Homo sapiens: one gene and its partner. The protein of the gene in region 1 purifies or fractionates together with the protein of each later gene. This does not show direct contact. Each region holds a gene or a part of one and is shown in the gene's direction. Other genes may lie near its edges. The genes, in order: CAMSAP3 and WWC1.

Region 1 (3,809 bases):
GAGACTCCATCTCAAAAAAAAAAAAAAAAAAGTATAAAATAGAGATGGGGTCTTGCTATGTTGCCCAAGCTGGTCTTGAATCCCTGGGCTCAAACATCCTCCCACCTCAGCCTCCCCAAGTGCTAAGATTACAGGTGTGAGCCACCACACCTGGCCCGGAAAAGCTTTTTGAGCTGAGGTCTTGGGGGAGAGTGTTCTAGAAAGATGCAAAGGCCTAAGGCAATAGTCACCAACTTTTTGGCTCCAGGGACCGGTTTTGTGGAAGACAATTTTTCCACAGATGGAGGCAGGGAGGTGGTCTTGGGATAATTCAAGCACGTTAATCTTTATTATGTACTTTATATCTAATACGTTGTAACATAGAATGAAATAATTCTACAACTCATCATCATGGGGAACCAGTGGGAGCCCTGAGCTTGTTCCTGCAACTAGACGGTCCCAGCTGGGGGTGATGAGAGACAGTGACAGATCATCAGGCATTCGATTTTCATAAGGAGGGTGCAACCTAGATCCCTCACACGCCAGGTTCACAATAGGGTTCGCGCTCCTGTAAGAATCGAATGCCGCCGCTGATCTGACGGAAGCGGGGTTCGGGTGGTCCTGCAAGTGACGGGGAGCGGCTGTAAATACACTCACTGCAGCTCACCTGCTGTACGGTTCAGTTCCTGACAGGCCACGCCCCGGGGGTTAAGGACCCCCGGCCTAAGGACGGTCTATCATATAATTCACCTCGGCCGGGTACAGTGGCTCACGCCTGTAATCCCAGCACTTTGGGTGGCTGAGGCGGCCGGATCATGAAGTCAGGAGATCGAGACCATCCTGGCTAACACGGTGAAACCCCATCTCTACTAAAACCACAAAAAATTAGCCTGGTGTTGTGGCACACTCCTGTAATCCCAGCTACTCAGGAGGCTGAGGTGGGAGAATCACTTGAACCCGGGAGGCAGAGGTTGCAGTGAGCTGGGATTGCGCCACTGCACTACAGCCTGGGTGACAGAGCGAGACTCCATCTCAAAAAAAAAAAAAAAAGAATTCACCTCTCGAAGGGCACCTGGCAGAAGCTGGGCTCATAGGAGGTCTTCCGTGTGTGGGGGACTGCTGGTCCCTGGCTTCCCTGGGGCCCCATCCTCCTCCTCATAGAGTTGGGGACCCACTCCTCCTGTCCCCACAGAGGTGTGCTTGAAGGACCCCATGTCTGTGGCGGACAGCCTGTACAACCTCCAGCTCGTGCAGGATTTCTGTGCCTCTCGCCTTCCTCGTGGCTGCCCCCTGTCCCTTGAGGACTTGCTGTACGTCCCACCGCCACTCAAGGTAAGGCCATCCTGGGGCCTCCTGGGCCGAGGCGGGCATCTGGGGCCAGGGGTCCCGTCTGCTGACCCGGCCTCCCACCTCCAGGTCAACTTGGTGGTGATGCTGGCCGAGTTGTTCATGTGTTTTGAGGTGCTCAAGCCCGACTTTGTGCAAGTGAAGGACTTGCCCGATGGTCACGGTGAGGCCCTGGGGGCCTGGGGGCCGGGTCGGGGGCGGGTGGGAGAGCCAAACCCCCGCCTGACCCTCTTCTCTGTACTGCAGCTGCCTCCCCCCGGGGCACTGAGGCCTCCCCACCTCAGAACAACAGCGGCAGTAGGTACGCTCCCCACACTGGGCGAGTCTCTGGCATTGTGGGTGTGGGGCTCCATGTCTGCCTTGCTGAGCACTGGGACGCAGCTGGGTGATGCTGTTGTCTCCCCCCGGGGAGAGGCGGAGGAGGAGGTGGGGGTCCTGAGGCTGAAGTACGTCTCTCCGTACAGTTCTCCTGTCTTCACCTTCCGCCACCCGCTTCTGTCATCTGGTGGCCCCCAGTCCCCACTCCGAGGATCCACAGGTGAGGAGGGGGTAGGTGGCTTCTGTCACGGGGGACCCCCCCACTCACAGACTGCCCCAGTGGGCCTCATGTTGTCTCCTCGTGAGCCTTCCAATAGCCTCTCCATCAGATCCCCCTTGGGCATCCCAAAGTGACCCCCAGAATGGCCTCCCCAGTGGCCCCACAGTACCCCGTAGTGACAGTAAATGGCCCCGGGTATCTGTTTCTGGAAACCTCTGGTCTCACTAGACCACATAATGAGCCATCAGTGACTCACCCAATGACCTTGCAGAGGTTGTCCCCAGATGCTGGCTGACCCCACTCAGGGTTCCCAGGGTCCCCATAGTGACCACTCATCGCCTCCCCCAGGCTCCCTGAAGTCTTCCCCGTCCATGTCCCATATGGAGGCCCTGGGCAAGGCCTGGAACCGGCAGCTCAGGTGAGTAGACCTCACAGGCCAGGGTAGGGGGTGGAGCAGGCTAGGGCGGGTTGGGGCCGAGGCTGGTCCCAGGGGCTGACCCCTCCCTCCGGCCGCCCAGCCGTCCCCTCTCCCAGGCTGTGTCATTCAGCACCCCCTTTGGCCTGGACAGCGACGTGGATGTCGTCATGGGAGACCCTGTGCTCCTCCGCTCTGTGAGCTCGGACAGCCTGGGCCCCCCGCGTCCCGCGCCGGCCAGGACCCCCACCCAGCCACCCCCGGAGCCTGGTGACCTGCCCACCATCGAGGAAGCTCTGCAGATCATCCACAGTGCCGAGCCCCGGCTCCTCCCAGATGGGGCGGCCGACGGCAGCTTCTACCTCCACTCCCCTGAGGGGCCCTCCAAGCCATCCCTGGCCTCCCCCTACCTGCCCGAGGGGACCTCCAAACCACTGTCCGACAGGCCCACCAAAGCACCAGTGTACATGCCACACCCCGAGACCCCCTCGAAACCATCTCCCTGTCTGGTGGGGGAGGCATCGAAACCGCCAGCCCCATCCGAGGGGTCCCCGAAGGCGGTGGCTTCGTCCCCAGCAGCCACCAACTCCGAGGTGAAAATGACCAGCTTTGCAGAACGCAAGAAACAGCTGGTGAAGGCAGAGGCTGAGGCCGGAGCGGGGTCCCCCACGTCCACTCCGGCCCCGCCGGAGGCCCTGAGCTCGGAGATGAGTGAGCTCAGCGCCCGGCTGGAGGAGAAACGCAGAGCCATCGAGGCTCAGAAGCGACGGATTGAGGCCATATTCGCCAAGCACCGCCAGCGGCTGGGCAAAAGCGCCTTCCTGCAGGTGCAGCCGCGGGAAGCCTCTGGGGAGGCGGAAGCAGAGGCGGAGGAGGCCGATTCCGGTCCAGTCCCTGGTGGGGAGCGGCCCGCAGGCGAGGGCCAGGGTGAGCCAACCTCACGGCCCAAGGCAGTGACCTTCTCGCCAGACCTGGGCCCGGTGCCCCACGAGGGGCTGGGGGAATACAATCGAGCGGTCAGCAAGCTGAGTGCCGCCTTGAGCTCGCTGCAGCGGGACATGCAGAGGCTCACGGACCAGCAGCAGCGGCTCCTGGCCCCGCCCGAGGCCCCCGGATCCGCCCCACCACCTGCTGCGTGGGTCATCCCTGGCCCCACGACGGGGCCCAAAGCTGCATCCCCCAGCCCCGCCCGGCGAGTCCCGGCCACCCGGCGCAGCCCTGGGCCCGGGCCCAGCCAGTCACCCCGCAGCCCGAAACACACGCGGCCAGCGGAGCTGCGGCTGGCACCCTTGACCAGGGTGCTTACGCCACCCCACGACGTAGACAGCCTCCCCCACCTGCGCAAGTTCTCGCCGAGCCAGGTGCCCGTGCAGACGCGCTCTTCCATCCTCCTGGCGGAGGAGACGCCCCCCGAGGAGCCAGCCGCCCGGCCGGGCCTCATCGAGATCCCGCTGGGCAGCCTGGCAGATCCCGCCGCCGAGGACGAGGGAGACGGGAGCCCCGCTGGTGCTGAGGATTCCTTGGAGGAGG
Region 2 (3,809 bases), on another chromosome or scaffold:
CTGTCTTCCATAGAGAGTGTATCAAAATTGGGAGTTCAGGCTCCCCGAATCCCAAAGTGTTGGGATTACAGTCGCTGACGCCTGTAATCCCAACACTTTGGAAGGCCAAAGCAGGCAGATCGCCTAAGACCAGGAGTTCAAGACCAGCCTGGGCAATATGGCAAAACCCCATCTCTACAACAAAATAATAATTCAAAAATTAGCTGGGTATGGTGGCACATGCCTGTAGTTCCAGTATTTGGGAGGCGGAGGTGGGAGGATCACCAGAACCCGAAGTGGTCGAGGCTGCAGTGAGCCATGATTGTGCCACTGCACTCCAGCCTGGATGAGTGAGACCCTGCCTCAAAAACAAAACAAAATTGGGAGTCGCAAAGGCAGTTTCCTGGTTCCTGAACCTGCCTTTCCATTTTCCTTCCCTAGCTGTGAATACGGCCCAGGGGTGTGGCCTGAAAGTGGCCTGTGTCTCAGCCGCCGTATCGGACGAGTCAGTGGCTGGAGACAGTGGTGTGTACGAGGCTTCCGTGCAGAGGTAGGTGTCTGGGTGCTGGCTCTCTCTGTGGCCCTGTAAGCCATGAACTCTGAATATCCAGAGCCTAGGCCTGTGGAGAGGCTTAGGTTTTGGCCCCCACAGTGTGTGGGAGGAGCCCCAAGAGGGCATGACCCCACCTTCCTCTTGGCTGCCCAAGGCACAGACAGCATAACTTTTCCTGGGGTTAGAGATGCTTCAGGTTTGGGGGAGTGCTAGTTCTGTGGTAGCTACGAAAAAGGTATATGGCTAAGGAGCAAGCACTAGAGAAAGGGAAGGCCCCTTAAGAGAGGAGTCCAAGCTGGGCATAGTGGTGTGAGTCTGTAATCCCAGCTACTTGGGAGGCTTCAGTGGGAGGATCACTTGATACAAGGAGTTCGAGACCAGCCTGGGCAACATAGTGAGCCCCCATCTCTAAAAAAAATTTTTTTTAATTAAAATTTAAAAAAGGACCTGAAGGGAAGCTGAGCAAACCCCAACTTTCCTTCCTGGGGATGTAACCTCAGCCTCCCAGAATAGTTTGTTCACTGTAGGGAAGCCTAACTCCTCCTCCCCTGTTGCCTTTCAGACTGGGTGCTTCAGAAGCTGCTGCATTTGACAGTGACGAATCGGAAGCAGTGGGTGCGACCCGAATTCAGATTGCCCTGAAGTAAGTGACGAGGACGAGGAGGACAGAAGGAACGGTCTGTGTGGGGTCCCTTCTTCATCCACAGCGTTCCCCAGCATTTACCTTCACAGCCGCCCAGGGTGGAAGGCAGCACCAGCAGGACCTGCTGGCCATTGCAGCTTCTTAACTGAAGGGATGCTGATTCGTTCCTCACCTCCCAGCCATCCGCTTTACAGATAGGAGAAATGAGGTTGGAGAAATGGGGTTTTAAAAGACCTTATGACTTGGCCCAACTCACTGAGCTGGCTGGTAGCAGAGCCAGGACTGGGACTGAGACCTCCTGCCTCTCAGTGTGTTTGTTCATTGTTGCTGTGGCTTTTGTCTTTCCATCCCATCTAGGTTTCATTGATCTGGATGGAAGTTGATCACTGGGGGCTGCAGCCCAGATTGGGTCAATACACACATGGTTGTTCTTTTTGTTTTCTTTTGTTGGGGGATGATATGATCTCAATTTTTTTTTTTTTTTTTTTTTGAGACAGGGTCTCACCTGTCACCCAGGCTGGAGTGCAGTGGTGTGATCTCAGCTCGCTGCAACCTCTGCCTCCTGGGTTCAAGCGATTCTCCTGCCTCAGCCTCCCAAGTAGCTGGGATTACAGGTGTGTGCCACCACGCCCGGCTAACTTTTGTATTTTTAATAGAGATGGAGTTTCACCATGTTGGCCAGGCTAGTCTCAAACTCCTGACCTCAAATGATCTGCCCGCCTTGGCCTCCCAAAGTGCTGAGATTACAGGCATGAGCCACCACACCTGGCCTTCAATATTTTTTAATAGGAATTAGTTGACAACATTTCCATATCATGAAATTTCACCCGCATTTATGGGTTCTTTTTAAAAATTCAGACAACTGGCTGGGTGTGGTGGCTCACACCTTTAATCCTGACACTTTGGGAGGCTGAGGCAGAGGAATCACTTGATTCCAGGAGTTCAGGACCAGCCCAGGCAACATGATGAAACCCCATCTCTACTAAAAATACACAAAATTAGCTGGGTGTGGTGGTGAACACCTGTAGTCCTAGCTACTTGAGAGGCTGAGGTGGGAGGATCACCTGAGCCTGGGAGGTCGAGGCTACCATGAGCCCCGATCATGCCACTGCACTCAACCTGGATGACAGAGTGAGACCCTGTTTCAAAACAAAAAAAAAATTTTCAAACAATTGGCAGCTCTAGCTCTACATCCCTGCATGGCAGCAAAGCACTGGGCCTGTGCTCTAGAGCTCACCATAGGCCCCAGGGCAGCCAACAGCCACGTCCTGTGACTTTTAATGGAGAGAAGGAATGAGAGAGATGAGTGTGTTACTAATAGGTACTTCATATGCCCCTTTTCATTTCAGGTATGATGAGAAGAATAAGCAATTTGCAATATTAATCATCCAGCTGAGTAACCTTTCTGCTCTGTTGCAGCAACAAGACCAGAAAGTGTGAGTATGTAGCTGGACAGGTGTATTTCATACCCTAACCCTCTGGAGTTACCCCTGGGGGTCACTTTTCTGCCCTGTCCTGATCCAGTTATGGGCCTTGTCAAGGCACTGTGGGTTTGTACTGCATATGACTGTGATGCTGAATGTCGGTGCTGTGCATGTGAATACAGGCACAACGGCAAGCACACCAACTGTAAAGACAAGCACTCTCTAGATGACTGTGTGAATTCCTGCCCCATTACGTGCTGAGCACCTGCTGCATGCCAGCTCTAGGAATGGGGTGGTGAGCAGATCCTTCCTGGGCCCTACCCTCCTGGACTTTGAGCCTCATGGAGAAGAATGGTCACAGTCTGTTTTATCTTCTCCTAAGCTCAAGTGTTTCTTGCAGAGAGAGATAGGTCTTCTGTTTCCAAGAGTCAACACCAGTCACTGCTTCTCTTGGAGGGGTGTGACTGCGTGTTACCTTGATGCTGGTAGGATGCAAACACCTGCTCTGTCTGCCTGTGGGCTCCTCCCATGGTAGATGGGTTTATCCTTTATTGCACTCATCTGCCTCCAAGTTTTCTCTGATCGTAAGGCCTGGAGGGTGGCAACAGAAGCTTATGTGTCTGTGGTCTACACTCAGCCAGCCTGTGAGGGTGGCACATGTGGGAAGAAGAAAGGGCAGGAAGGCGGACAAAACGGAAGGAAGACAAGATGGGATGCTTGGGTCAATTTCAGTCTTCTGCCCACACAGACAGTGCCAGGCTGAATAGCCTCCTCCATAGCTCACTGGTACTCATGCAGGGGCATCTGTGGGATAATGCCTAGAAGTGAAGGGTCTGGACCAAAGGACAAATGCATCTGGAATTTTGTTCGATTTGTCAAAGTTCCTTCCAGTGTATAGGGGCCTGATTCCCCAGATTCCTCACTTCTACAAACTCTCATCCACTGTTGTTTGCTTAGGGATTTCAGCAGCTGTTTAGTCCAACATTTTAGCCCCAGACATGGGCTGACCCAAGATTTCCTGCGGTTCTGTCTCCCTCTAGGAATATCCGCGTGGCTGTCCTTCCTTGCTCTGAAAGCACAACCTGCCTGTTCCGGACCCGGCCTCTGGACGCCTCAGACACTCTAGTGTTCAATGAGGTGTTCTGGGTATCCATGTCCTATCCAGCCCTTCACCAGAAGACCTTAAGAGTCGATGTCTGTACCACCGACA

What was found.
Region 2: the proteins of CAMSAP3 (region 1) and WWC1 purify together in Homo sapiens (co-immunoprecipitation; one large-scale study listed by IntAct). This does not show direct contact.

Annotation. Positions count from the first base shown.
Region 1 is NC_000019.10:7,609,305-7,613,113, forward strand, and holds part of CAMSAP3 (calmodulin-regulated spectrin-associated protein 3), read left to right. Parts: intron 1-1,171; coding exon 1,172-1,311; intron 1,312-1,395; coding exon 1,396-1,489; intron 1,490-1,572; coding exon 1,573-1,627; intron 1,628-1,790; coding exon 1,791-1,864; intron 1,865-2,212; coding exon 2,213-2,282; intron 2,283-2,382; coding exon 2,383-3,809. UniProt on the Homo sapiens protein: Key microtubule-organizing protein that specifically binds the minus-end of non-centrosomal microtubules and regulates their dynamics and organization.
Region 2 is NC_000005.10:168,427,613-168,431,421, forward strand, and holds part of WWC1 (protein KIBRA), read left to right. Parts: intron 1-420; coding exon 421-529; intron 530-1,094; coding exon 1,095-1,175; intron 1,176-2,524; coding exon 2,525-2,611; intron 2,612-3,639; coding exon 3,640-3,809. UniProt on the Homo sapiens protein: Regulator of the Hippo signaling pathway, also known as the Salvador-Warts-Hippo (SWH) pathway.